Linked DNA regions of Homo sapiens: all the other regions are linked to region 6. Evidence: fine-mapped expression QTL. A gene starts in region 6. Each other region holds a variant in brackets. All regions are shown on one strand. Distances are between the middles of the regions.

Evidence for each region.
Region 1: its variant is fine-mapped to the expression of ZNF772 in whole blood (INTERVAL, PIP 0.98).
Region 2: its variant is fine-mapped to the expression of ZNF772 in whole blood (TOPMed, PIP above 0.99).
Region 3: its variant is fine-mapped to the expression of ZNF772 in whole blood (INTERVAL, PIP above 0.99).
Region 4: its variant is fine-mapped to the expression of ZNF772 in whole blood (INTERVAL, PIP above 0.99).
Region 5: its variant is fine-mapped to the expression of ZNF772 in naive CD4 T cells (Schmiedel 2018, PIP 0.95).
Region 7: its variant is fine-mapped to the expression of ZNF772 in whole blood (INTERVAL, PIP 0.98).

What each region holds. Positions count from the first base shown.
Region 1 is chr19:57,380,660-57,384,726 of GRCh38, forward strand. No RefSeq gene overlaps it. Among named protein-coding and RNA genes, the nearest start is that of ZNF548, 7.2 kb to the right of the region's middle. The variant CT/C (reference allele first, on the strand shown) is at 1,881.
Region 2 is chr19:57,443,024-57,447,090 of GRCh38, forward strand. ZNF749 (zinc finger protein 749) reads left to right here. Exons shown (of 3, transcript NM_001023561.4): 3 at 268-4,067. The coding sequence ends at 2,462. Among named protein-coding and RNA genes, the nearest start is that of ZNF749, 9.7 kb to the left of the region's middle. The variant T/G (reference allele first, on the strand shown) is at 2,437.
Region 3 is chr19:57,453,152-57,457,218 of GRCh38, forward strand. It overlaps VN1R1 (vomeronasal 1 receptor 1), which reads right to left and starts at 3,989. Exons shown (of 1, transcript NM_020633.4): 1 at 1,639-3,989. The coding sequence starts at 3,335. The coding sequence ends at 2,274. The variant C/A (reference allele first, on the strand shown) is at 1,943.
Region 4 is chr19:58,051,119-58,055,185 of GRCh38, forward strand. ZSCAN1 (zinc finger and SCAN domain containing 1) reads left to right here. Exons shown (of 6, transcript NM_182572.4): 5 at 1,372-1,510; 6 at 2,311-3,513. The coding sequence ends at 2,933. Among named protein-coding and RNA genes, the nearest start is that of ZNF135, 6.1 kb to the right of the region's middle. The variant G/A (reference allele first, on the strand shown) is at 2,208.
Region 5 is chr19:57,504,124-57,508,190 of GRCh38, forward strand. ZNF773 (zinc finger protein 773) reads left to right here. Exons shown (of 4, transcript NM_198542.3): 2 at 534-663; 3 at 1,179-1,277; 4 at 2,235-4,067. The coding sequence ends at 3,301. Among named protein-coding and RNA genes, the nearest start is that of ZNF773, 6.2 kb to the left of the region's middle. The variant GTT/G (reference allele first, on the strand shown) is at 1,589.
Region 6 is chr19:57,475,101-57,479,167 of GRCh38, forward strand. It overlaps ZNF772 (zinc finger protein 772), which reads right to left and starts at 2,466. Exons shown (of 4, transcript NM_001144068.2): 1 at 2,177-2,466; 2 at 1,534-1,572; 3 at 560-686. The coding sequence starts at 2,209. RefSeq lists enhancers at 1,667-2,190, 1,781-2,980.
Region 7 is chr19:57,675,417-57,679,483 of GRCh38, forward strand. ZSCAN4 (zinc finger and SCAN domain containing 4) reads left to right here. Exons shown (of 5, transcript NM_152677.4): 3 at 625-1,125; 4 at 2,498-2,663; 5 at 2,750-3,736. The coding sequence starts at 730. The coding sequence ends at 3,489. Among named protein-coding and RNA genes, the nearest start is that of ZNF551, 4.5 kb to the right of the region's middle. The variant AT/A (reference allele first, on the strand shown) is at 2,003.

The sequences.
Region 1 (4,067 bases), 94 kb before region 6:
CAAAGATGCTGTCCCTTAATTAGTTAACTCTCACAATCCATTTTAGTAATGGTTCCTCAGGAAACTGACTACTTCAATCTATAAAGTAAAACAAGTTCTTCACATTATACTCTCTGGTTTGAATAGTTACTTGGTTTTGTTCTTCCCCACAATGACTACCTTCTTGGTAGCCGTAGGTCTCAGAGGCATTTTCTGTTGTCCCTAAATGATTCTGCCCTTGGTGGGAGGTGGCTTTTAGGCTGGCTGGTGGCTTTCGTTCAGATGGACTGAAATCTAAGCTTGATCTAGCATCAAGTTTGGACCCAGCACTCTCTAATTTTTTTTTTTTTAGCTGTTATAGATAACAAAGGATTGAGTAATTTGCTTTTTGCTTATTAGCTTGCATTTTCTTATGCATCCAGTGAACCAGAGATTGAATATTTTGCTTTTTGCATATTAGTTTGCATTTTCTTATGCATCCAGTGTACCAACTCCCTGGGAGCTGGATCCATCTCTAAATTTCCATGGTAACTCTTACCTTTAGTAACTGAGCACAGACAGCCACAGTTCCATACCATGTATGGCCATTTGGCCACTAAGGAATCAAAGGTTTTTCATCCTCCACCCATTTTTAAATTGAGGATTATTCAAAAGTTAAAGAAAAAACTTTATTATCTCTTATTAATATATGTAAATTGTGTTCAAAATAGAAAATGAACTTCTACTTTTTTTTTTTTTTTTTTTGAGATGGAGTCTCACTCTGTTGCCCAGGCCAGAGTGCAATGGTGCGATCTTGGCTCACTTCAACCTCTGCCTCCCGGGTTCAAGTGGTTCTCCTGCCACAGCCCCCTGAGTTGCTGGGATTACAGGTGTGCACCACCTTGCCTGGCTAATTTTTGTATTTTTAGTAGAGACGGGGTTTCACCATGTTGGCCAGACTGGTCTCAAACTCCTGACCTCGTGATCCGCCCGCCTCTGCCTCCACCTCCCAAAGTGCTTGGATTAGAGGTGGAGCCACCGCACCCAGCTTTTTTTTTTTTTTTTTTTTGAGACAGAGTCTTGCTCTGTTGCCCAGGCTGGAGTGCAGTGATGTGATCTCGGCTCACTGCAACCTCAGCCTCCTGGGTTCAAGCAATTCCCCTGCCTCAGCCTCCTGAGTAGCTGGGACTACAGGTGCGCACAACCACGCCCGGCTAATTTTTTATATTTTAGTAGATATGGGGTTTCACCATATTAGCCATGATTGTCTCAATCTCCTGACCTTGTGATCTGCCCGCCTTAGCATCCCAAAGTGCCAGGATTACAGGCATGAGCCACTGCGCCCAGCCGAAATTCTATTTTTATATTTGTGTATTGTCAATACTAAAGCTAATTTGAATAAAGTCTTATAAACAAATCCATCCAATTTTAATCAGGTTTTGACCACACAAGGTAAGATTTTTCCGTAAACCTTTTATACCTTCTTACAAATTTTTTTCTATTTTTCTCTTTCCCCAATTTTTAGATCTATTTACCTTTGTTTGAGACAGAATCTCACTCTGTCACCCATACTGGAGTGCAGTGGTTTGATCTTGGCTCACTGCAACCTCCACCTCCCAGGTTCAAGTGATTCTCGTGCCTCAGCCCCCCACATAGCTGGGATTACAGGCACACACCACCATGTCCGGCTAATTTTTGTATTAGTAGAGATGAGGTTTCTCCATGTTGGCCAGGCTGGTTTCAAACTCCTGGCCTCAAGTGATTCACCCACCTCAGCCTCCCAAAGTTCTGAAATTATAGGCTTGAGCCACTACGCCCAGTCCTAGATCTATTTACTTTTATCTACATTATTTTCCTTTCATTTTGAAACGACCTTTACATAACCCCTAAACTAGACAGAATTCCTTTTTTTTTCTTTCTTT[CT/C]TTTTTTTTTTTTTTTTTGAGAGAAGTCTCACTCTTGTTCCTCAGGCTTGAGTGCAATGGCCCGATCTTGGCTCACTGTAACCTCTGCCTCCCGGGTTCAAACAATTCTCCTGCCTCTGTCTCCCAGGTAACTGGGATTAAGGCACCTACCATCACGCCTGGCTAATTTTTGTATTTTTTTTTAGTAGAGACGGGTTTTCACCAAGTTGGCCAGGCTGGTCTCGAACTCCTGACCTCAGATGATCTGCCTGCCTTGGCCTCCCAAAGTGCTGGGATTACAGGCGTGAGCCACCACGCCCGGCCCAGAATTACTTTTTCTTTAGCAAAAACCACATCTTCATTTTTTAAATATAAGCTTCTTCACAAAAAACACATAGTAAACATCATGGCACTGGGCTGCACAATACTTTGATAGAGCACGTTGATGTAAAGACATTTTTGTAAGTGTTTAGAGCATGCCTTTTATATCTAAACATGCAAAGAAATGAGTAGCCTCCTGTCGTAATAACCATTTACTGTAAACAACTGCCACCAGCTGCTTCTGACACTGCAGCTCTTGCTTGTGACAGCCATTACGCACAAAAACGTCAAGTTCTTTCACAGGACAAAGTAATCTCTGGTACCCCCCAAAACCAATGATATCAGGTAATGCACTACAAAAGAAGGCAGAATTTTAGACCTGAGATAAATCTGTCCTCTTAAAACTCTTGAGTGAGAGAGAGAGAGAGAGAGAGAGAGAGAGGGAGAGAGATTTCCTCATCTGGTTAGTGTAGATAGCAGGTTGGCTTCCTGAGCTGGTCAGTGCAGTAGTGGGTTAGAGTTCTGTTTTATATTTGGCTTGGCCATTGTTGATTTCTATAGTCAATTTCTTACATGTAAACAAGGAAGATAGCTATAATATTGAGATTTCTTGTTTTCTTAACTGGTCTTAGGTTGAAAATTGATTTTTCATTCTCCTCCCCGCTCCCCCCTCCCCCCACCATCCCATTCTTCTGCCTCTGCCGGATCTTCAGCTGGGTAGCATTTTGGTTTTGTTTGTTTTTTAACCTGGAGGATGTCCCCAAATATCAAAACCTAAACTTCTGATTCTTAGAAGTCCTCCCTTCGATGAGTTGCTAGTTTTATTTCTGAACATGAACTTACCAAAACATCCCCCAGAAATCCCCTGGTCTCAGACATAACTCTCTATGCTTCCCATTCCATGGCAGCAACTCAGCCTAACTCATCCAAAGCAAAAAAGCAATCCCTTCTTGCTTAAGTGACACAAGGATCCCCAGATGAACAAGTAGCTGTATCACCCTTCAATTAAATGTAATAATATTTACTTCTGGTGGAACCTCTCCTTCCTTGGAACAAAGGGCCCCCAACCAGCAGAATTTACAATTAAGAAGAAGTGGCCAGACACAGTGGCTCAAGCCTGTAATCCCAGCACTTTGGGAGGCCGAGGCAGGCAGATCATAAGGTCAGGAGTTCGAGACCAGCCTGGCCAACATGGTGAAACCCTATCTCTACTAAAGATACAAAAAATTAGCTGTGCGTGGTGGTGCGTGCCTGTAATCACAGCTACTCGGGAGGCTGAGGCAGGAGAATTGCTTTAACCCGGGAAGAGGGGGTTGCAGTGGGCTGAGATCATGCCATTGCACTCCAGCCTGGGCGACAGGGCAAAAAAAAAAATTAGCCGGGCATGGTGGCGGGCGCCTATAATCTCAGCTATTCAGGAGGCTGAGGCAGAAGAATCGCTTGAAGCCGGGAGGCAGAGGTTGCAGTGAGCTGAGATCGCGCCAATGCACTCCAGCCTGGGTGACAGAGCAAGATTCTGTCTCAAAAAAAAAAAAAGAAAAAAAGAAAAAAGAAGAAGGGTAGCAGAAATTCTGTGAATGAGTTACTAGGTTCAAAAATGAGGATGCTCAATATAATGCATAGGTTCAGAAAAAAATTACGATGAAAAGAATTGTCAAATTTTGTAACTGATACTTGACCTGGTTAAATTTGAATTATTTCTAATTCCCTATGTATATGTGCAGTGAGATAAAAGATAAATATTGTATGTGACATACTCATCATAAAATTATTTGTTGTTTATCTGAAATACATTCTAAATCAGGGGTCCCCAACCCCTGGGGCCACAGATGAGTACTATGGCCTGTTAGGAATGGGGCCATATAGCAGAGGGTGAGTGGCAGATG
Region 2 (4,067 bases), 32 kb before region 6:
GCCATTTATAGAGGAGTGAGTTGGAGACCCCACCTGCCCTCCCTGCATGGTACTTCTCCCTTGTGTCCTTACCACCAGGATTCCCCCACTACACACACTTCACAGGCCCACCTCTGAACACTGGGCCTTCCTCTCACTGGCCTTATTTCCTTGCCTGTGACCAGTCCTGTGCCCTCATTTGTGGGTGTGTCTCACAGACATTTGTGATGGGGCTGTCTCCTCCCTCCGGAGTTCACGTGCACTTCACCAGCATTTCTGTTCTTACAGGTTGTTGGCATGGAGCCAAGGATGAGGAGGTACCTTCCAAGCAGTGTGTTTCTGTAAGAGTGTTACAGGTCACAATTCCAAAGCCAGCTTTGTCCACCCTGAAGGCCCAGCCCTGCAAGATGTGTAGCTCAATTCTGAAGGACATTCTGCACCTGGCTGAGCACGATGGAACACACCCTGAGCAAGGGCTGTACACATGTGCAGCAGAGCATGACCTGCACCAAAAGGAGCAGATTAGAGAGAAGCTCACCAGAAGTGATGAGTGGAGGCCTTCATTTGTGAACCACAGTGCTCACGTGGGAGAGAGGAACTTCACATGCACGCAGGGTGGCAAGGATTTTACTGCCAGCTCAGACCTTCTCCAGCAACAGGTCTTAAACAGTGGGTGGAAGCTGTACAGGGATACCCAGGATGGGGAAGCCTTTCAAGGTGAACAGAATGATTTCAACTCCAGCCAAGGTGGGAAAGACTTTTGCCACCAACATGGGCTGTTTGAGCACCAAAAAACCCATAATGGGGAGAGGCCTTATGAGTTCAGTGAATGTGGGGAATTGTTTAGGTACAACTCCAACCTTATTAAATATCAGCAAAATCATGCTGGAGAAAGGCCTTATGAGGGCACTGAATATGGAAAGACCTTTATTAGAAAGTCCAACCTAGTTCAGCACCAGAAAATTCACAGTGAAGGCTTTCTTTCAAAAAGGTCTGACCCCATTGAACATCAGGAGATTCTCAGTAGACCAACACCTTATGAATGCACCCAGTGTGGGAAGGCCTTTCTTACACAGGCTCATCTGGTTGGTCACCAGAAAACCCATACTGGAGAACAGCCCTATGAATGCAACAAGTGTGGGAAGTTTTTTATGTATAACTCCAAACTCATCAGACATCAGAAAGTTCACACTGGGGAGAGGCGTTACGAGTGCAGTGAATGTGGGAAATTGTTTATGGACAGCTTCACACTCGGTAGACATCAGAGAGTTCATACTGGAGAAAGGCCTTTTGAATGCAGCATATGTGGAAAATTCTTTAGTCACCGCTCCACACTCAATATGCACCAGAGAGTTCATGCTGGCAAAAGGCTTTATAAGTGTAGCGAATGTGGGAAAGCCTTTAGCCTCAAACATAATGTTGTTCAGCATCTGAAAATTCATACTGGAGAACGGCCTTATGAGTGCACTGAATGTGAGAAGGCCTTTGTTAGAAAGTCCCACCTAGTTCAGCACCAGAAAATCCACACTGATGCATTTTCAAAAAGGTCTGACCTCATTCAACACAAGAGGATTGACATTAGGCCAAGGCCTTATACATGCAGTGAATGTGGGAAGGCCTTCCTTACACAGGCTCATCTGGTTGGTCACCAGAAAATCCATACTGGAGAACGGCCTTATGAATGCACTCAATGTGCGAAGGCCTTTGTTAGAAAGTCCCACCTAGTTCAGCATGAGAAAATCCACACTGATGCATTTTCAAAAAGGTCTGACCTCATTCAACACAAGAGGATTGACCTCAGGCCAAGGCCTTATGTGTGTAGTGAATGTGGGAAGGCCTTCCTTACACAGGCTCATCTAGATGGTCACCAGAAAATCCAGACTGGAGAACGGCGTTATGAATGCAATGAATGTGGGAAATTCTTTTTGGACAGCTACAAACTTGTTATTCATCAGAGAATTCACACTGGAGAAAAGCCTTATAAATGCAGCAAATGTGGGAAATTCTTTAGATATCGCTGTACACTGAGTAGACATCAGAAAGTTCACACTGGAGAAAGACCTTATGAGTGTAGTGAATGTGGGAAATTTTTTAGAGATAGCTACAAACTCATTATTCATCAGAGAGTTCATACTGGAGAAAAGCCTTATGAATGCAGCAACTGTGGGAAGTTTCTTAGATACCGCTCTACATTCATTAAACATCATAAAGTTTGCACTGGGGAGAAGCCTCATGAGTGCAGTAAATGTAGGGAATTGTTTAGGACTAAATCGAGCCTTATTATACATCAGCAGTCTCACACTGGAGAAAGTCCTTTTAAGTTAAGGGAATGTGGGAAAGACTTCAACAAATGTAATACTGGTCAGCGCCAAAAAACTCACACTGGAGAAAGGTCTTATGAGTGTGGTGAATCCAGCAAAGTGTTTAAATACAACTCCAGCCTCATTAAACATCAGA[T/G]AATTCATACTGGAAAAAGGCCTTAGTGGAGTGAATGCAGGAAAGTCACCAAAACTGTCACCTCATTCAGCACCAAAAGGTTCACATCGGACCAAGAACCTATTAATATATGTAAATCTAATGTTGAAAGAGTTCAGATGGAAATCTGCGAGGATTTCCTGCTGGGAACTACATTAAAAACATTTATGTCCAGGCGTGGTGGCTCACGCCTGTAATCCCAGCACTTTGGGAGGCAGAGGTGGGTGGATCACCTGAGGTCAGGAGTTTGAGACCAGCCGGGCCAACATGGTGAAGCCCCATCTCTACTAAAAATACAAAAATTAGCTGGGCATGGTGGCAGGTGCCTGTAATCCCAGCTATTCAGGGGACTGAGGCAGGGAGCATCACTTGAACCTGGGAGGCGGAGGTTGCAGTGAACTGAGATTGTTCCATTGCACTCCAGCCTGGGTGACAGGGCGAGACTCTGTCTCAAAAAGAAAAAAATTATAATTGTGGCAAATTACAGGTAACTTAAAATCTACCATCTTAACCCATATTTAACTGTACTGTTCAGTAGTGTTAAGTCATTCGCATTGTTGTCAATTAATATCCAGAAGTTTTTTCAACTTAATGAAACTAAAACATTATACCCTTTAAACCAGGGGTCCACAACCCCCAGGCTGCAAACTGGTACCAGTCTGTGGCCTGTTAGGAACCGGGCCAGCATCACTACCTGAGCTTCACCTCCTGTCAGATGAGCAGCATTAGATTCTCATAGCAGCCTGAGCCCTATTGTGAACTGTGCCTGTGAGGGATCTAGGTTGTGTGCTCCTTATGAGAATCTAACTAATACCTGATGATCTGAGGTGGGACAGTTTTATTCTGAAACTGTCTGCCCCCTCCTCTGTCCCTGATGCGTGGAAAAATTGGCTTCCATGAAACCAGTCCCTGGTGCCAAAGAGGTTGGGGACCGCTGCTTTAAACTACTCCTCTTCCTCATTCCCTACGCCAACCAGCCCCTGACAATACTACTGTATGAATTTTACTATAAATATCTCATATGAGGAAACTTAAGTTTTAGTCTTTTGTGACTTATTTTGAGGCTTATTTCCCTAAATGTCTTCAAGGTTTATCCATGTTGTAGCATAGCTTATGATTTTCATCTTTTTTAAAGGCCGAATAAAATCCCATTGTAGTCATGTGTCGCCTAACAAGAGGACTGTGTTCTGAGTAATCATCTTAAGGTGATTTTGTCATTGTGTGAACAAAGAGTGTACTTACACAAACCTGAAGGGCACAGCCTATTACGCACCTAGGCTATATGATATGGTCCATTGCGCCTCAGATATAAACCTTAACAGCATGTTACAGTATTGAATATTGTAGGTAATTGAAACACAATGATAAGTAAATGTGTATCTAAACATATCTAAGTTTCCAAAAGGTACTGTAAAAATGTATGAAAAATGGTAAAAACTTTATAGGGCACTAACATGAACGAAGCTTGCGGGACCCCTCTGGTTGAGTCAGGGAGTGAGTTGTGAGTGAATGTGAAGCTCTAGGACATTACTGTACCCTATTGTAGATGTTATAAACATTGTACACTTAGGCTACTCTAAATTAATTTTTTCTTTAGTAATAAATTAACCTTA
Region 3 (4,067 bases), 22 kb before region 6:
TTTTTCCTTTTTTCTTTTCTTTTTTCTTTGTTTCTTTCCCTCCCTCCTTCTCTTCTCCTCTCCTCTCCTCCTCTCCTCCTCCTCTCCTCTCCTCTCTTCTCTTCTTTCTCTTTCTCAGAATTTCACTCTTGTTGCCCAGGCTGGAGTGCAATGGCACGATCTCAGCTCACCGCAACCTCCACCTTCTGGGTTCAAGCGATTCTCCTGCCTCAGCCTCCTGAGTAGCTAGGATTACAGGCATGCGCCACCACGCCTGGCTAATTTTGTATTTTTAGTAGAGACGGGGGTTTCTCCATGTTGGCCAGGCTGGTCTCGAACGCCTGACCTCAAGTGATCCACCTGCCTTGGCCTCCCAAAGTGTTGGGATTACAGGCGTGAGCCACCATGCCCGGCCTATAAATTTTCTAGTATCTTATACAAATGAAATCCTACATTACATTCATATGGAGCATTTTTTGATATTTATACATGTTAAGCGTATTCATTTTTTGTTGATGAAGAGTATTGCATTGAATATACCACAATTTATTAATCTATTAATAAATATTTTGATTGTTTCTAGTGTTGGACTAAAAAACTAACAAAGACCCATGAACATTCATATACAAGTGTTTATATGAATATATTTAGCAGAATTGCATTTGTTATACCTCCTTGTCCATGATGGTTATGGTGTATTTTAAAGATTAACCATTTTCATAGATGTGTTGTGGTCAGTGTGGTTTTTAAATTTGCATTTCTCTAATAATTAATGATGCTGAATAAGTTTTTATATGCTTATTTGTTATCTGTATATTTGGCCAAATTTCTAAATCTTTTCCCTTTTTTTAAAAAAAAATCTTATTTTTCTATTTTAATAGAGTTTTAATTTTAGAACATTTTAAGATGTACAGAGAAATTGCAAATATAGTACAGAGATATCTCATTTACAAGCACACCTAGTTGTTACTAATATATAGTCATATATTAGTATACAGCATTATTTACAATTAGTGAAACAGTTTTGATACATTATTAAACTAAAGTACATCTTTGATTGAGATTTCCTCAGTTTTTACCAAAATACATGTTCTGTTCCAGAATTCCACCTAGGATACCACATTGCATTTATTTTATTATTTTTTATTCTTTTATTTATTTTTTTTCATGTGTCTCTAAATGTAACCACATTACAGTTAGTACTCACATTTCTTTAGGCTTGTCTTGCTTATGAGAATACTCATTTATTTTGATATTGATTTTTAATTTTTTTTTTTTTAGATAGTCTTGCTCTATTGTCCAGGCTGGAGTGCAGAAGCACTTTCTTTCTTTCTTTTTTTTTTTTTTTTTTGAGACGGCGTCTTGCCCTGTCTCCCAGGCTGGAGTGCAGTGGTGGGATCTCGACTCACTGCAACCTCTGCCTACTGGGTTCAAGGATTCTCCTGCCTCAGTCTCCTGAGTAGCTGGGATTACAGGCACCTGCCACCATGTCTGGCTAATTTTTGTATTTTTAATAGAGATGGGGTTTCACCATGTTGGCCAGGCTGGTCTTGAACTCCTGACTTCAAGTGATCTGCCCACCTCAGCCTCTCAAAGTGCTGGGGTTACCGGCGTGACCCACGGTGCCCAGCCACTTTTAGTTATTTTTATTTTTATTTTGAGTCTCCCTCCGTCACCCAAGCTGGTAAGTAATTCTCGTGCTTCACCCTCTGGAGTAGCTGGGACTACAGGTGTGTGCCACATGGTTGGCTAATTTTTGTATTTGAGACAGGGTTTTTGCCATGTTGGCCAGGCTGGTCTCGAACTCCTGGCCTCAAGTCATCTTGAGTGGATCACTTGAGGCATTTGGGAGTGCCTCAGCCTCCCAAAACGGTGGGATTACAGGCGTGAGCCACTGTGCCCGGCCTGCACATGTCTTTCTTACATGTGGACTCTCCAGGGGATTTATGCTGTTCAAGAAGCA[C/A]CTGAATCAAACTGTGCTTTAAAAATATTTTTAAAACATTCCATGATTCTTCATAGTACAAAAATGAGAAATCTCCCCTAAATCTCTAAAGAATTCCCTTTTTAAACTTTTTGATTTCCTGAACTTGTCTGAAGGACTTAACACAGTTATATAGAGTGTTCTTTGTGTAACAGTATCCATGACTTTCATTTTTAGCTCTGGTATTAGATCTTCCTGGACAAGAGCATTACTGGCCATGTGTATGTTGCTATCACAAATAACTAGTAGTTAATATTTCCTAAATCTTAGCAAGAGTTATGATAAATAGCTGAATTCCATGAAGAGAAAAGACTCATGGCATGACAACCAGATTAGGAAAGAGTGTTTTCCTTGTCCTGCAGGCAAAACAGAACTGAGAGATATGAGTATCACTCATGATGAGGACAAAAGGGCTGCGTGCTGGGAAACATGAGGCGACCAACACAGAGTTGGTCACTATCCACTGGCCTGGGTTTGCAACTACAGTTGTCCAAATTGTCAGAAAACTATGGACTGAATAGAAAACAAAAAAGGAGCTCACCAGGACCATGATGGTGTGTGTGGCTCTGGCTTCCTGGGAAGGTCTGCAGGAGAGTCTGTTGCTGTGATTGTGTTGGACTTGCTGCTTGTGTCTGTAGAGGAAGAAGACCATGGAGCCACTGGCCCAGACCATGAAGCCCAAACTCATAAAATCAGGGGAAAAATATAAGACTGCATGTAATGAGCTAAATCTCTTTGATGCTTTGTAAGAACAGTATCCATAATTGTTTTTTGCACTACTGTTTTTGCTATTCAGTGGGCCATTCACTAATAGAAGAACAGATGCATTCATCAAGACATGGGGGGCCCAGCAGAGGAGACAACAGAAGTCAATAAACCTTGGGGATCTAATCTTGATCTCCATCCACCTGCATATACTGGGGTTGAGCTTAATGGCTTGGAATCCATTGAGAAGGCAGATGGTGCTGAGGGAAACTCTTGTGCCCACCCTGTGATAATAAAAGACAAACTTACATCCAGTGTCATTCAGCAAATATTTCAATCCAAAAGCTGCCATTGTCTGAGGTATCCCTTTAAAGAAAAGGACCATGGAGTTAGCCAAGGCCAGTTGGCTGAGAATCAAGTCCGTGGGTCTCAGCTTGTGTCCAGTGAACAAAATTAAGTTATAAAAACAAAGGAGAAAGGAATTTCCCAGGATCCCAACTCCAGTCTGAATGAGGAAGCTAATCCCTGATTTTACTTTTCCAAAAGCCATTTCATCAAAATCTAGGGGATGTTGATTTTCATTGAGGTCTGAAGAATCAGTAGAATAAAAAAGCAGAAAGAAGTATCTTGTCATCAGTGGAGACAGAAGTTTTAATGTGTCTCCAACCATATTTTCTCATCTTAAACAGAAATTAAGATTGTCCCTGTTCGTGCAAAGGCAATTGCTTGTGTGTCCAACTGCAGAGAAGCAGGTGAATGAATGAGGGCTCAACCGCACAACAGATCCACAAATCAAACCTATAAAACTCAGGGCTTACACACATGCAACAAGTAAATACAAGCAAAACTAGGGAAATATATAAAAACAGAACACAGAAGAGTCAATATCATTAGAGTGATATTATACTATAGTTTGCAAAATGTAATCATGACGGAACCCTGGGTAATATGGACAGGGCTTTTTCTGTATTATTTCTTATGACTGCTTGTGAGTCTACACTTATTTCAATAAAACCTTCAATTAAGTAGCCTGGAGATATGAAAAGCAAAAATAATACACCATAAAACCTTTTCCACACTAATATTTTAGTAAACACCATTGTTATTGATGCATTGAAACAAATTTTAGGCCGGGTGCAGTGGCTCACACCTGTAATTCCAGCACTTCGGGAGGCCAAGATGGAGACCATCCTGGCCAACATGGTGAAACCCTGTCTCTACTAATAATACAAAATACTAATAATACAAAAATTAGCCGGGCATGGCGGCGCGTGCTAGTCCCAGCTACTCGGGAGGCTGAGGCAGGAGAATCGCTTGAACCTGGGAGGCAGAGGTTGCAGTGAGCTGAAATCAAACCATTGCCCTCCAGCCTGGGCGACAGAGCGAGACTCTGTCTCAAAAA
Region 4 (4,067 bases), 580 kb after region 6:
CCCCTCTCTCCACACATACATGCCACCCACTCTTCTCTCCACGCAGCCCCTCTGCTGCCCTTGATTAGTCACAGACGCCAAGGTGGGTGAAGTAGGGAAGAGCCTGACTGTCCACAATGGCCCCCAGTAGCCAGGTACCAGGAAGAGGCGTAAAAGGGAGTCCCGCCTTTACTCCTATAGATGGTGGCTCCTCTGGTTACGATTTCAGAATTCAACATGTTTTACAATCAAAACTAGCATTTGATAAGAAATAAAAATCAATAACCCAGCCAAACACACCATCCACATACTCCCAACGTGAGAGCAGGAAGAATCTTGTGCCTTAACTCCCTTCCTGCCATCAGCTCCCTCCCTCCCTCCCTCCCTCCTCCGTCTCTAGCCCAGCAATCCCTCTACTCCAGTTTTGCCCAGCTATTGGGAATCTTGGACAGCTTCCTTAGGCCCCTGTGCATCCAGGTAGGGTTGGGGCAGCAGAAAGCGAAGACCCACTCAAGACAGACCTTGTCAGTGCGTGCTTGACTCCTGGTCTTTTCTGATGCTTTGTTTGACTCAACATACCTCCTCCAACAACCTGATTTGCATTGATAAGTGTCACTGTGTTTTCCTTTGACACGACTCCGTTGCAGTTTGCCGAGCCCTTGATGGTACCAGGCTCTGGGCACGTAGCACCCACATCCTCACTGGAAACCCAGAGAGCTAAAGCTCCTCATCCAGGGCCACACAACAAGCAGGGCTGGAGCCTGGACACCAAGCCAAGCCCCTCTGTTTCGAATTCTTGCTCTTCAACCACAGCTCAGTCTCCTCCCAGGAAGTGGTGATCCCCGCTTTGGGCGGGACACGGTTAGGTGCATCAGAGGTCATAGGTCGCAGGTGGGATGTGAAGTCTGTGAAGTCGCCCACTTCCTCTGGGCTTGTGGGCAAGGACAGTGCAGCCTTGGGGGACGGGAGTTAGGAGCCCCAGCTTGTAACAGTGACCCGAGCTGTGGCACAGGTCCCCTGGCTCCATCTAATGCTCTGTTGTCACTGTCCTGAAATGATCAACGATCTTTGAACAAGGGGATTTGCATTTCCATTTTGTACAGGGGCCCCTCGAATTCTGTCTCAGGTCCTGTTAAGAGCTCTTTAGGAGTGGTTATTTATTTTTTGTATAAGCAGAGTCTTGCTGTGTTGCCCAGGCTGGTCCCAAACTCCTGGCCTCAAGCAATCCTCCAGCATCAGCATCCCAAAGCACGGGAACAACAGGCGCGACACCGCGCACTGCCCTGGGACAGAGCCTTTGGGGATGACGCCCGTTCCTTGGTTGTTCGGTGGTGGTGGGGAGGATGGCTCCTGAGGGGCAGCTGCCGAACAGTCCTGTGCTTGCCATTCTAGGCGTCTGAGCTGATTCTGGATGCAGTGGCAGCAGCCCCAGCACTCCCCGAGGAAAGTGAGTGGCTGGAGACTACCCAGCTCCAGCAGAGTCTGCACACCAGGGCGGAGGCCGAAGCGCCCCGCGCCCCTGGCTTGCTGGGTGAGTCTGGCTCCTGTGTGGATTAAGGGTTGGAAATGGAGTTTGGGACTTCAACCCAAAGCCACAGACTTTGTTAATGGGTTGAGTTGGGTGCTTCGGTGGTGAACTCCACACTTCCCCCAGAAAGCATGCACACCTCCTGTGAGGACTGAGATCTGGGGCCCCTAGAACCACCATGTACATCGTTCACCCTACGAGAAGGGCCTCAGCCTCCGCACCTGAACGGCAGCCAAGGCAGACAGTCTGAGAGTGTTGGAGCACGGGGTTACCCAGAGGGCCAGCCAGGTAGGAACAAGGGCCAGTGCTGTGGGATCTGCTCCCAAAACATGTGCCTTTTTTTTTTTTTTTCGAGACAGAGTCTTGCTCTGTTGCCCAGGCTGGAGTGCAGTGGTGTGATCTTGGCTCATTGCAACCTCCGCCTCCTGGGTTCAAGCGATTCTCCTGCCTCACCCTCCTGAGTAGCTGGGATTACAGGCGCACACCACCACGCCCAGCTAATTTTTGTATTTTAGTAGAGACGGGGTTTCACCATGTTGGTCAGGCTGGTGTCTAACTCCTCACCTCATGATCCACCTTCCTCGGCCTCCCAAAGTGCTGGGATTACAGGCATGAGCCACTGCACCGGCCACATGTGCCCTTGTATCTTAAAGGACAGAACGGAGGACACAGGGGCCGTATTGAGCAGAGGAAGGGCCTG[G/A]ACTTGGCTCAGTCACTGGGGTCCTCCGTGCCCCTGGGGAGCACAGGGAGATGCCAAGGCCATCCACTCACTACAGGTGACCCATCTCCCTCGCCCTCCACAGGGTCCCGGGCCCGCTTGCCTCTGAAGCCGAGTATCTGGGACGAGCCTGAGGACCTTCTCGCAGGGCCCTCCTCAGACCTGCGGGCAGAAGGGACTGTGATCTCGAGCCCCAAGGGTCCAAGTGCTCAGAGAATCAGTCCCCGAAGGAGAAACAGGAACACTGACCAGAGCGGCCGCCACCAGCCATCCCTCAAGCACACCAAAGGTGGTACCCAAGAGGCTGTTGCAGGCATCTCGGTAGTGCCGCGTGGGCCCCGAGGTGGGCGGCCCTTCCAGTGTGCCGACTGTGGGATGGTCTTCACCTGGGTCACCCACTTCATCGAGCACCAGAAGACCCATCGCGAGGAAGGGCCCTTTCCGTGCCCCGAGTGTGGCAAGGTCTTCCTGCACAACTCCGTCCTCACTGAGCATGGCAAGATCCACCTGCTGGAGCCACCGAGGAAGAAAGCCCCCCGGAGCAAGGGCCCCCGGGAGTCCGTCCCACCCAGGGATGGAGCCCAGGGCCCAGTGGCCCCTCGCAGCCCCAAAAGACCCTTCCAGTGTAGCGTCTGCGGGAAGGCCTTCCCCTGGATGGTCCACCTCATTGACCACCAGAAGCTCCACACGGCCCACGGCCACATGTGAATGGCCAGCCTCGGGCCTCGGCCACCCGGCCCTGAGTCCCTGGGGGGAGCTGATGGGCCCCAGAAGATGGGGGACATCCCCCAGCCCCACCAACCCCTGGCCACCTTGGGACTCCTCTTGAAGGACACAAGCTGTTTCTCGGAAGACCCTGGACACCTGCTCCGAAGCCAAGCACGGGATGGGGCTTCCCAGGGTCTCAGCTGAGAAGCAGCAGTTCCACAGCACAGCCTGGTCAGTCCTGCGCACTATAGTTTTGCAAGTGGCTTGAAGAGGAGTTTCATTCGCGTCCCATCTTTCAGAAGCCTTGTCCAGGTCTCCCTGTTAGCACCTGACTCAGCGGCAGCTTCTGCCGCTGGGTTTTCATTTCACTGTGGATATCCCTGAGGCCATGAGGGTGGGAGCCGGCCTGGGCAGCTCCAACTCCAGAGAAGGGTACAGCTGACCCCGGCTGCCCTCCTGCCAGCTTAGCCCCCTTGGAACCTAACAGATAAACAGGGTTTTGTTTTTTTCCTTTTTTGGGTAAAGTACATGCAACATAAAATTTACCATTTCAGTCATTAAAAATGAACAGTTCAGTGGCATTAAGCACATTCACAACACTGTGCAACTACCAGCACTCTCTAGCTCCAAAGATGTTTTCGTCTTGCCCAGAAAGAGAGCCCACAGTCCTCAGCACGCCTTCGCCATTCCTGCCCGCCCTGACAACCAGAATCTGCTTCCTGTCTCTGAGGATTTCAGGCGCAGTCTTTAGGCCTGACCAAAACTGACCTGCCTGTATTTTGTTTGACTTACAGAAGGATTTTTTTTTTAGATAGATGCCAACATTTGTTTAAACCATAAAAATCTGGCTTTCTGGTCTGCCAGGAAGGATCAGATGGTCTCCAAAGAGTGGGCCCGCCTCTCCTGCTAGGCTGGAGCAGAGTGTGGGCAGGCGGTGACGTCACAGCGGGGAGCCAGCCTCGGACTCGGCTTCTCACCCGTCCCCAACTCATTGTTGTCGGACACTCGTCCCCTTTCAAGCAAAAGCCTTAAAAGTTTTTGCCTTTTTCTTTTTCTCCTCCCGACTTCACTTGGAAACACAGTGTTGGGCTGACTGTGAATCCGCACAGGCAGAGACATTTTTCCAAGTCGCCT
Region 5 (4,067 bases), 29 kb after region 6:
CTGAGGGTTGCCCCTGGTAGTCAGTGCCATTGGAGGTCTAGGAAGGGATGGAGTTCTGATTGCATTTGGTGAGTGCCCTCTGGATGCCATGTGTAGACTAGAATGTGGTGACGCTAGGGGAGGCACATAAGGTGGTGCAGGGGGCAGTGGTTGTGGTACAGAGTATGTGCACATTCTAATGAGTGTAAACAGATGTCCCCAGGGACCTTGTATTGGGTGCTTCAGGGAGAACACTGACACAAATTTGATTGTATTTGGGAAACACAATCTGGGGGATCCAAGGTGAGTTGTCTGGCAAGAGAAGAGTAGGACTCTGCATACCATGCCCAGAGCTGAGATGGACTTTATCTGCCTACCTGCCTCTGCTTGCTCAGTGGGAACATGAGGAGAGAGTGGGCATCAGTGGTTCTGGGGCAGGGTCTCTCTTCTGAGATGGGGATTAAGGAAGAGGGTGAGCAGGGGTGGATGTTTAGGGGGATGCCTAAATTCCCCAGTAAGGAGACCGCAGATAAACTCAACTCTGTCCATCTTAGCAGGGCTATGTGACCTTTGAGGACGTGGCTGTCTACTTCTCCCAGGAGGAATGGAGATTGCTTGATGACGCTCAGAGGCTCCTCTACCGCAATGTGATGCTGGAGAACTTTACACTTCTGGCCTCTCTGGGTAAGGTTCTCACACCCCACCCCAGCATCCTGAGCTGGACTTGGCTTTTCCTCCTTTTCCTAGGGAGAGGTCTGTTCTTCCCAAAGCTGAACTGTGGGCACTCATTCCTTCTCCAGTATCCTGAAGTAGCTATTGTAATAGGCCTGGGCTGTGTATACTACCACCTTCTCTCCCTGAGCTGCCCCACAGCTGTGCAGGAAAGGGTTTGGGGGTCAGGAGTCTTGCAGTCAGCTTGATGGATCTTATCCCTGGTGGCCTCTCTGTGGCCTGGTGACACTGTGCAGATCTGTGGTAGTTCTATTCCCCTACATTCTGCCTGTCTCCTCTAGCCAACATACCTGGGTGTCGGTCTGTGCCAGCAATTGAGTCACCAATGTGATTGCTGTTTGACTGGGTTGTTCCTGCAAGACCCTCCTCCAAGGTTCTTTCTGTACTATTTTGTTTTCTTTCCTGTGGTCCATGATGAGATAAGTCATTCTGGCTCAGTGCTGCCACTCACCTGTCGTTTTCCTTAGGACTTGCATCTTCCAAGACCCATGAAATAACCCAGCTGGAGTCATGGGAGGAGCCCTTCATGCCTGCTTGGGAAGTTGTGACTTCAGCCATACTGAGAGGTACTTGGTGGGTGGAGCTCAGGGAGGTATGAACTCGGGTATGGGTTTGTATCATACCAGGAGTCTTTCCAGTGGGCCCAGATATTTTGATACCAAGGCAAGGTGTCGTCGCTGATTTCTATCTTTTCTTCCTCAGTCACCCATTTATATCTATTCTGATAGTTGACCCAGGGCCATTCCCCACCTCTCTGTACTCCATGTTTCACCCCATCCTCAGCAGCACCTTTCAGCAGTGGCTTTCACTGAATGTGTGGTGAGGTGGGGCGCTTATTCTTGCATAGTCCTTGGACACCAACTATTTCATTCCAGTT[GTT/G]TTTTTTTTTTTTTTTTGACAGAGTCTTGCTCTGTCGCCTAGGCTGGAGGGCAGTGGCGTGATCTCGGCTCACTGCAAGCTCCGCCTATCAGGTTGATGCCATTCTCCTGCCTCAGCCTCCTAGTAGCCAGGACTACAGGCGCCCGCCACCATGCCTGGCTAATTTTTTGTATTTTTAGTAGAGACTGGGTTTCACCATGTTAGCCTGAATGGTCTCGATCTCCTGACCTCGTGATCTGCCCGCCTTGGCCTCCGAAAGTGCTGGGATTACAGGCATGAGGCACCGCGCCCATCCTGCAGTTGTTTTTTTCTGGACCTGGATATAACCTTCTGTGCCGTGTTCCTGTGTCTCCAGCAGCCAAAACCCTGTGGAAAGCCATTTGCAGAGGATTGTGTTGGGGACTCTGCCTCTCCTCCTTGTGCTACACCACATCCTTGCATCCTTGGTGCTCATGAGGCCTCCCCAAATCTGTGAGCTAGCCAGGTTCAGCACTGCACAGCAGGCCCTTCCCCACCAAGCGCTAGCCCCCTCATTCTGCAAGCAGTCCCACACGCTAATTACCAGGTGTGTCAGACACGTGTGAGAGTGCTGCCTTCTCACACCAAAGACTACATTTACTTCATCAACATTTCTCTTCTTTCAGGTAGTTGGCAAGGAGCCAAGGCTGAGGCAGCTGCTGAGCAGAGTGCTTCTGTAGAAGTGCCCAGTTCAAACGTTCAGCAACACCAGAAGCAGCACTGTGGAGAGAAACCCTTAAAAAGACAAGAGGGCAGGGTCCCAGTTTTGAGGAGTTGCAGAGTCCACCTATCAGAGAAGTCCTTGCAAAGCAGGGAAGTTGGGAAGGATCTTCTGACCAGCTCAGGTGTTCTCAAGCACCAGGTGACTCACACGGGAGAGAAGTCACATAGGAGCTCCAAAAGTAGGGAGGCCTTTCATGCTGGAAAAAGGCATTACAAATGCAGTGAATGTGGGAAAGCCTTTGGTCAGAAATATTTACTTGTTCAGCACCAGAGACTGCACACTGGGGAAAAGCCTTATGAATGCAGTGAATGTGGGAAGTTATTTAGCCATAAGTCCAACCTTTTTATACACCAAATAGTTCACACTGGAGAAAGGCCTTATGGGTGTAGTGACTGTGGAAAATCCTTTAGCCGTAATGCTGACCTCATTCAACACCAGAGAGTTCACACTGGAGAAAAGCCTTTTACATGCAGTGAATGTGGAAAAGCTTTCAGGCATAATTCCACACTTGTTCAGCATCACAGAATCCACACTGGAGTAAGGCCTTATGAGTGCAGTGAATGTGGAAAATTGTTTAGTTTCAACTCCAGCCTCATGAAACATCAGAGAGTTCACACTGGAGAAAGACCTTATAAGTGCAGTGAATGTGGAAAATTCTATAGCCACAAGTCCAGCCTTATCAATCATTGGCGTGTTCACACTGGAGAAAGGCCTTATGAGTGCAGTGAATGTGGGAAATTTTTTAGCCAAAGCTCAAGCCTCATGCAACATCGAAAAGTTCACACTGGAGAAAAACCTTTTAAGTGCAATGAATGTGGGAGATTCTTTAGTGAGAATTCCAGCCTTGTTAAACATCAGAGGGTTCACACTGGAGCAAAGCCTTATGAGTGCAGGGAATGTGGGAAATTTTTTCGCCACAGCTCCAGTCTTGTTAAACATCGAAGGATTCACACTGGAGAAATACAATGATTGTGAGAAATCCTTTAGCTGGTGTTTCAACCTCATTCAACACCAGAAAGTTCACAGTGTAAAAAAGTCTTGAAGGTTACTAATGGAAATCCATTAGCTATACCTCCAAACTCATTCAACACTGGACAGTTCACAGAGTGGACAATGTAGTGAATATGGTAAAAGGCCTCAGCCAAAGGCCTAACCGTATTCAACACCAGAAAGTTTAGACTGGAGAAAGGCCTTAGACTGTCGCTGAATCAATATGACCTGACTTAAAGCAGAAACAGCCAGGCGTGGTGGCTGACACCTGTTATTCTCACCACTTTGGGAGGCTGAAGCGGGCGGATCACAAGGTCAGGACATCGAAACCATCCTGGTTAACACAATGAAACCACATCTCTACTAAAAATACAAAAATTTACTGGGCATGGTGGTGGGCGCCTGTAGTCCCAGCTACTCAGGAGGCTGAGGCAGAAGAATGGCATGAACCTAGGAGGCAGAGTTTGCGGTGAGCTGAGATCACGCCACTGCACTCCAGACTGGGTGACAGAGTGAGACTCTGTCTAAAAAAAAAAAAAAAAAAAATTAGCCCGGCGTGGTGGCAGGCAACTGTAGTCCCAGCTACTTGGGGGGCTGAGGCAGGAGATTTGCTTGAACCCGGGAGGCGGAGGTTGCATTGAGCCGAGATCACGCCACTGCACTCCAGCTTGGGTGACAGAGTGAGACTTCGTCTCAAAAAAAAAAAAAAAAAACAAAAAAAACCCAGAAACTCTGAGGGTGATCT
Region 6 (4,067 bases):
CCCATCACCAGTGAGGCAACTATGTGGGACATGAAAGATGTATGTCCTAAGGGAAAGATAGAACAGCACTGGTCTGGGTAACCCATATAGAAAACTAAATATTATTAAAATAATCTCAGAGTAAGGTCTTGCAGGAATAGTGCAGTGGTCCTAGCAAGTAGCGACCATAATGGTCCCTACAATTCCTGACATAGGCAGGCCACAGGAAATGTCAGCTAAAGGAAGAGCGCAGAATCCCAGGCACAGAGGTGTCATGGATACAGACAGAGGAATTCAGACAGGGAAAGGACAAGATGGATATGACCCACTGGGCTGACAATACAATGCATAACTCCTGAATCCATGCCTGCAAGGCTCTGAGACAGCAAGCGCTGGGAATGCTCAAAAGGAGAAAGTAGGAGTGCAAACAGCCCAAGCCCAGCACTCACAGAACCTACTCCAGGCACTAAGAAATGAGACAGTGTCCACGGCTCTGATGTAGGAAGGACAAAGATGCCCTGAAAAAAAGGGGAAGGGCAGGACCCAGTCCAAGTCACTGGGGTGGATGTGACGGCCTTACCCAGAGAGGCCATAAGTGCAAAGTTCTCCAGCATCACATCACGGTACAGGAGCCTCTGAGCCTCATCAAGGAGCACCCACTCCTCCTGGGAGAAGTACACGAACACGTCCTCAAAGTTCACCTGCCCCTGCCACAATCAGGAGAGCCAAGTCCATGAGCAGCATCTCTCCCAAGAACCCCCATCCGTGCCCCCACACATCTCCCTCCTGTACACCCTCCTACCTAACTCCTCAACTCAGGAAATATCAGGACCAGATGTCATTGGTGTCTTCTCTCGCCTCATGGTCCCAATGGATCACTGTGTCTACCCATAGCAACCACAGGCAGGTGAAGAAGTTGTCACCCTCTAAGCTCTGTGCTTAGCATACAGGGCCTCACCCTTCTGTAAGCAAATTCCTCTGGGGTCACTAACATCATGCTTACCAGACAACCAAAGATGGGCTTGCCTTTCTCCTTTAAGCCCAGACGTCATCAGTCTACACTTCTTTCCATATGTACATCACTCTTTGGATCACAGTTATCTCACAACTCTGGCTCTCCACCATCACTTTCCTGGCTCACTAAATGCACTACCACTGTGAAATGAATATTCTCTTTTAACTCCCAATCTACATAATCATCTTTAAGCCATTTCAGGATGATTCCCGCCCCCTTGCTCTTGGTTCCCACCAGACATGACAGAGACCTGCAATTTCTTGAAAACTCCCTTCTCAGTCTCACCTCTAAGTATTTTGCACAGGCTGGTTCCTGTGCCTGGAACAACCTTCCAACCTTATTCCAATGGTTGGCAGAAATGGAAACCCCTCCATAAAACCCCTGGCCCGGAGTCAGGACCCTGGGCTTGGGGCTTCTCCAGAGTCCTCAGACCCAAGAGATCGGAGAGTAGCAGGAGAGTGTTCTATATAACACCACAATGCTGGAGAGCGTATTGGGTGGGGGTGGGATCGGTGAGAGCATGGACATTCTCCCCTCACCTGTATAGGGTCCACAATTACTTCTGAGTTCATGGGAACCTGTGGGGAAGAGGGAGACTATGCGAGTCAAGCAATCTTGAAGGAACCCCAAAGGCTCAACCCCATCCCATATTCCTACCCAGTTACAATGTGCCTGGGAGCTGAATGTCTACCCTCTGTGCTTCCATCTTCAAGGATACCTCTTAACTGTGTTAGCTCGGAACAGTGCTCATTATCCGCCCCCATGGCCAACAAGAGTCTGCCCTCCATGAGCAGTCTATGGAATACTTTTTAAACCCTCGGATTCTGGCTCTCCTCTGTTCAGAACCTTCCATGGCTCCCATCACCCTCAGAATAGAGACCCAGCTGCTCAGGATGATATTCCAGGTGCAATCACTTATAAAGCGCTCTGATCCTTTCAGACACTAAAGGCCCAGTTTTCCCAAATGCTCCAGCTGTGAACCATCTCTGAGCCTTTGCATACACTGGTCTCTCTGCCTGGAACGTCCTTCAACTCGTGCTGTCAAAATGGGTCCCAAACACGAGCGCCCCCACTGTTCTAGATACAGGGGCCTGAGCTGCAGTAACCCGAGGAATCGTTCATTCGAAGCTTTGGGATTCAGAGATGGGGGTCAGCGCGCAGACTCGCAGACGCAGCACCCACCTGTGCCGGGCCCATCGGCTCAGCCGCCGCCATCAGGCCTGTGGACTACGGAAGGGTGGCGACAAGTGCAGGAACCTGGGATCAGCTGTCCAGGGCCCAGCCCAGCGGCTAGGTCACTCAGGCAGCGCCACTGTCAAGCCTCAGGCCCACCTCTCTTCAGGGAAGAAGACACTCTCTCACGTTTTCCCTTTTCTGTCACCTCAGGTCTGACATTGCGTTCTGGAAACTAAACCAGTGGATTAATGGAAAAGCAAACAAAATGTCCACCCGAGGATGGTAGAGGAAGTCCCGCCCTGACGTTGGTGAGGACCAACGGAAACGCCTATTTCCTGGGTTTTCATTGGCCCAGAGCCGCCAAGTTTCCTGGGTAATGTAGTTCCCACGGCACCAACACTAGTAAGCGGCGTCTCGCTTCACCTCCAGGTTAAAAGCCCAGAGAAGACCGCCAGGGGCGCGTGGAAATGGTGTCCCTCGTCTCCAAGGCCCAGACGGAGCTTAGCTTCCTCTTGAAGGAGCCATATCTGTATTTCTGGTGAACGTCGTGTTTGACATCAAAGGAATGTTTAGAGACATGATTTCAGCCTTCCTTACGCAGAGAATGCTCATCAAAAAATAAAATGGACACACCATACACTGACGTCACTCAGATTTCTATGGCTGGAAGTTAACAAATATTGTTTTCAAATGCGTGTAGCCTGATGCTCCAGAGTTAGTTTGGCGAGCCTCAGCATTTTCTGTCAGGCACAAGAAAGAAAAGACTCCAGACACCATGATGTGGAACGTGGAGTGGGGATGTTTGGTGGCCTTGAAGTAAGTGAATAACCCTTCTGTCTGTTACCTCAGAAAATATTTATCCTGCTTATACAGCAGTGATTGTGTCAAACCCAACAAGTAATACTCTTGTTCAAGATAGTATTTCATACTCCATATACAGAGATGTATTCAATATTTTAAGTGTTTTACAAGTGTCTGAAAAGACAGAATTCATCAAATGTCATATGGCAATGAAAAGGGCAACATGAACACTTTCTGTAAAGAAGAAATAACCACCAAACTAGATGTCTATACACAACAAAATGTCTTTTATGGAAGTGTGATATAAAACTATTTGAAACCAAAAATGATAAATGTAATGGAAATACATTTACACAAAAAATAATGTTTAAAATAATACTCAAGGCCAAAGAAAGTTGATCTCAGGTGAAAAGTCTGCAATGAGAGAAGAAATGAAGATGAAAAGAAGTGCATCTTTTGATTAAAATAACAGCATATTACAGTGTAAAACATAAGTAGATATACTTATTGAGTTAGAATGATGGAATTCCCGTGCGTAACCTCAACTACATATAAATTGAAAGGAGGCTAGTTGCTCAAAGTTTTAAATTTTTTATATTTCCAAGTGGAAAGCAAATGTATTACAATCCTGTATGGCACGCTAATGTGTTAAACGTTTGTAATTTTTAGCCTAAATATAATAAATACAGTCAGCGTATATACTTTTCAAACTAGAAGAGGAAATGTTTGGAATATAAATAAATAATCAATAGAAAGGTAAAATAATAGTAAAATAAGTGGAAGAAGTGAGGCAAAGAAAAGCACAATGTAGGATATATTTAAACTGTCAACCTAAATAACAGAGATTCTTCAAAGATGTTGAGTTCATTCAGGAATGCACAGGGGATTTGCAAATCCAGGACATGCAGGCTATAGGGACTATAGGCATATCCAGAGAGCTTGAAACAAGGAGAAGCTTTCAAAGGCAAAAGGGAAAAGTATATATAATTTGTTTTGAGATAAAAAGAACATTGGTCACAGATGTTTATGGCAGAGGTTAACACCAGTTCATTAGTGGAGACAATCTGTCAGGCAAGTGTTCTACTACATCTAGAGC
Region 7 (4,067 bases), 200 kb after region 6:
GGATTACAGGCATGAGCAACCACACCCGGCAAGTTTTGTATTTTTAGTAGAGATGGTGCCTCACCATGTTGGCCAGGCTAGTCTCGAACTCCTGACCTCAAGTGATCCGCCCTCCTCGGCCTCCCACAGTTCTGGGATTATAGGAGTGAGCCACTGTGCCCAGCCAAGGATATTTCCTAATAGTTCTAGTTTATTAAGTGCCTTTTTCAGGAATAAACATTGGCATTTAAACATTTTAAATGCATTCATTGAGATGATTTTATTATGTTCTTGTATCCATATCCCGTTAACGAAGTAAATTGCATTGATTTTTGAATTTTAACCCAAACTTCCTGCATTTTGGAAATGAACACCATTTGCGATGTATATGTGAGTAGATTTTATTTTCAAATATTTTGTTTTGGATAATTTTAATGTATTTGTAAAATTTTGTTATCAGGAAGTGCTGACCTCAGTAACTAAAGTGGGTAGTGCTTCCTCTTATATGCTCTGGGAGAGTTTATGTTAAGTTATAATTATTTCTTTGAATTCATCCATAGAGCCATGTAGGCCTAACTTTTTGGTTGATTTGTCTTTAATTATGCCAGTGGTGCAATTAATTACTCATCTCTTTTCTATTTCTAGCTTGCAGTTTTAAAGAATCCACCAACTGTTGAAACAAATCCCTAGAGACACAAGGCAAGAGACTGAATCATCAAAGTAAAGTCTCTCTGAGAATTATTGCTAAGAATGGCTTTAGATCTAAGAACCATATTTCAGTGTGAACCATCCGAGAATAATCTTGGATCAGAAAATTCAGCGTTTCAACAAAGCCAAGGACCTGCTGTTCAGAGAGAAGAAGGGATTTCTGAGTTCTCAAGAATGGTGCTCAATTCATTTCAAGACAGCAATAATTCATATGCAAGGCAGGAATTGCAAAGACTTTATAGGATCTTTCACTCATGGCTGCAACCAGAAAAGCACAGCAAGGATGAAATTATTTCTCTATTAGTCCTGGAGCAGTTTATGATTGGTGGCCACTGCAATGACAAAGCCAGTGTGAAAGAGAAATGGAAATCAAGTGGCAAAAACTTGGAGAGATTCATAGAAGACCTGACTGATGACAGCATAAATCCACCTGCCTTAGTGAGTACAGGGTTCTAACTTCTGGGATGAGAGACAAAGGAAAGTAAGGAATAAATCACAGTCAGTTAGAGTTGTCTGGAAGTTAGAGAAGCTATTGGAGGTCCAGTTATTAGTCAGCTCACACTCTCCCACCATTCTCACAAAGAATAATCTTCAATGTCCTAAGTTCTCAAGAAAAAAAGCAAAAAGGTATATATCTGTTTATTCTGTAGGACATATAGGAGCCAAACATATTGATGTTTGATTAACTTAATTTTAGTCTGCATAATGGCAGACTCTGAGAAATTGACTTTTTGGCATGATATCAGCTCACTGCAACCTATGCCTCCCAGGCACAAGTCATTCTCGTGGCTCAGCCTCCAGAGTAGCTGGGATTACAGGCGTGCTCCACCAAGGCCGGCTAATTTTTGTATTTTTAATAGAGACAGCGTTCCACCATGTTGGCCAGGCGGTCTCGAACTCCTGGCCTCAAGTGATCCGCCTGCCTTGGCCTCCCAAAGTGCTAGGATTACAGGTGTGAGACCAGCCTGAAATTGACATTTAAATGAAGACATCAAGGTTGAGGAAGAAATGTCTTGACAAGAGCTTGTTCTTCTGTCAGGGAACTCTAATCAAGAAAGACATTCTAAAGAAGCAATTACGGTAGATCCTTATTCTCAGAGCCCATATTTGCAAAATTGCTAAAATTTATTTGTAAGCTTAAAATAAATACCTGAGGCATCTTCTCCGTCATTTTCAGATATGTGCAGGTGGTAAAATATTTGATTTACCTTAGGTGCATGTTTCCAGGTGAGGTTGAACAAGGCCACAACCTCACTTCCTATTTTGGTTCCTACAGTGTAAATAAGTGTCCTTTTCACAGTCTATTTAGTGGCAC[AT/A]TTTTTTTTTTGCTTTTTATTGATAACTTTGTTGTTTAAAGTGACACTGAAGTAAAATGCTGAAACACTGTCTAGTCTTCCTAAGTGCAGGAAAGTTGCTATGTATTATGGAGATAATACATGTGTTGGATCCTCTGAGTTCAGGATTAATCAATAATATATATTAAATGGGGTGTCTTTGAACATATACACACATAAAACAAACTCATGTATTGATCAGTTGACAAAAATAATGTAGCCAGAAGCTCACAGGAAACTAACCCTGAATTTTTCCTAGGGGAAATGATTCAGTACTTGTAAATTCAATGTCCATGTGACTTTATTAAACATAAGAGCTTGTAGTAACAAGAATAACACCATCAGAGATGGTGGACAAAATATGTGATAGCCAATACTTGAGGGAGCTTGTGAGAGCCTGTTAAGGACCACTTTTCCAAAAAGTCTTCTGTTACACAACAGATTCAGATACAACAGTGATCTGGCTTTCTTTACAGGTCCACGTCCACATGCAGGGACAGGAAGCTCTCTTTTCTGAGGATATGCCCTTAAGAGATGTCATTGTTCATCTCACAAAACAAGTGAATGCCCAAACCACAAGAGAAGCAAACATGGGGACACCCTCCCAGACTTCCCAAGATACTTCCTTAGAAACAGGACAAGGTAAGTCAGGTGAATCTGCACAACTGAGGAGTGTTCTATGTGGACCCCTTCTTAAGTACAACTTCATTGAGTGTCTATTTTCACAGGATATGAAGATGAACAAGATGGCTGGAACAGTTCTTCGAAAACTACTCGAGTAAATGAAAATATTACTAATCAAGGCAATCAAATAGTTTCCCTAATCATCATCCAGGAAGAGAACGGTCCTAGGCCTGAAGAGGGAGGTGTTTCTTCTGACAACCCATACAACTCAAAAAGAGCAGAGCTAGTCACTGCTAGATCTCAGGAAGGGTCCATAAATGGAATCACTTTCCAAGGTGTCCCTATGGTGATGGGAGCAGGGTGTATCTCTCAACCAGAGCAGTCCTCCCCTGAGTCTGCCCTTACCCACCAGAGCAATGAGGGAAATTCCACATGTGAGGTACATCAGAAAGGATCCCATGGAGTCCAAAAATCATACAAATGTGAAGAATGCCCCAAGGTCTTTAAGTATCTCTGTCACTTATTAGCTCACCAGAGAAGACACAGGAATGAGAGGCCATTTGTTTGTCCCGAGTGTCAAAAAGGCTTCTTCCAGATATCAGACCTACGGGTGCATCAGATAATTCACACAGGAAAGAAGCCTTTCACATGCAGCATGTGTAAAAAGTCCTTCAGCCACAAAACCAACCTGCGGTCTCATGAGAGAATCCACACAGGAGAAAAGCCTTATACATGTCCCTTTTGTAAGACAAGCTACCGCCAGTCATCCACATACCACCGCCATATGAGGACTCATGAGAAAATTACCCTGCCAAGTGTTCCCTCCACACCAGAAGCTTCCTAAGCTGCTGGTCTGATAATGTGTATAAATATGTATGCAAGTATGTATATTCCTATAGTATTTATCTACTTAGGATATAAGATATAATCTCCTGATTATGCTTTCAATTTATTGTCTTGCTTCATTAAAATGTAAGGCTAAGGAGAGCATGGAATTTGTCAGTTTTGTTCACTAAAGTATTCCAAGTGGTTGGGAAAGTGGAACATTTCCAAGAACCAATAAATTTCTGTTGAATAAATGAATGAATCCATAATGTTGATATCCTTTTTTAAAAAAAGAGATGGGGCCGGCCGCAGTGGTTCGGCCTCCCAAAGTGCTGGGATTACAAGCGTGAGTGACCGTGCCCGGCTTTTTTTTTTTTTTCTGAGTCAGAGTCTTGATCTGTCGCTCAGACTGGAGTGCCGTGGTGTGATCTTGGCTCACTGCAACCTCCACTTGGAGGTCCAAAATTAATCATAGACACCAAACCACAGATCCAGAAATCTCAGAGAAGAGGAAGCAGTGTAAATACCAAAAACCTACAACTAGGTACATCATATTCAAACTACAGAAGGCCAAAGATAGAGAAATTCTTGAAAGAA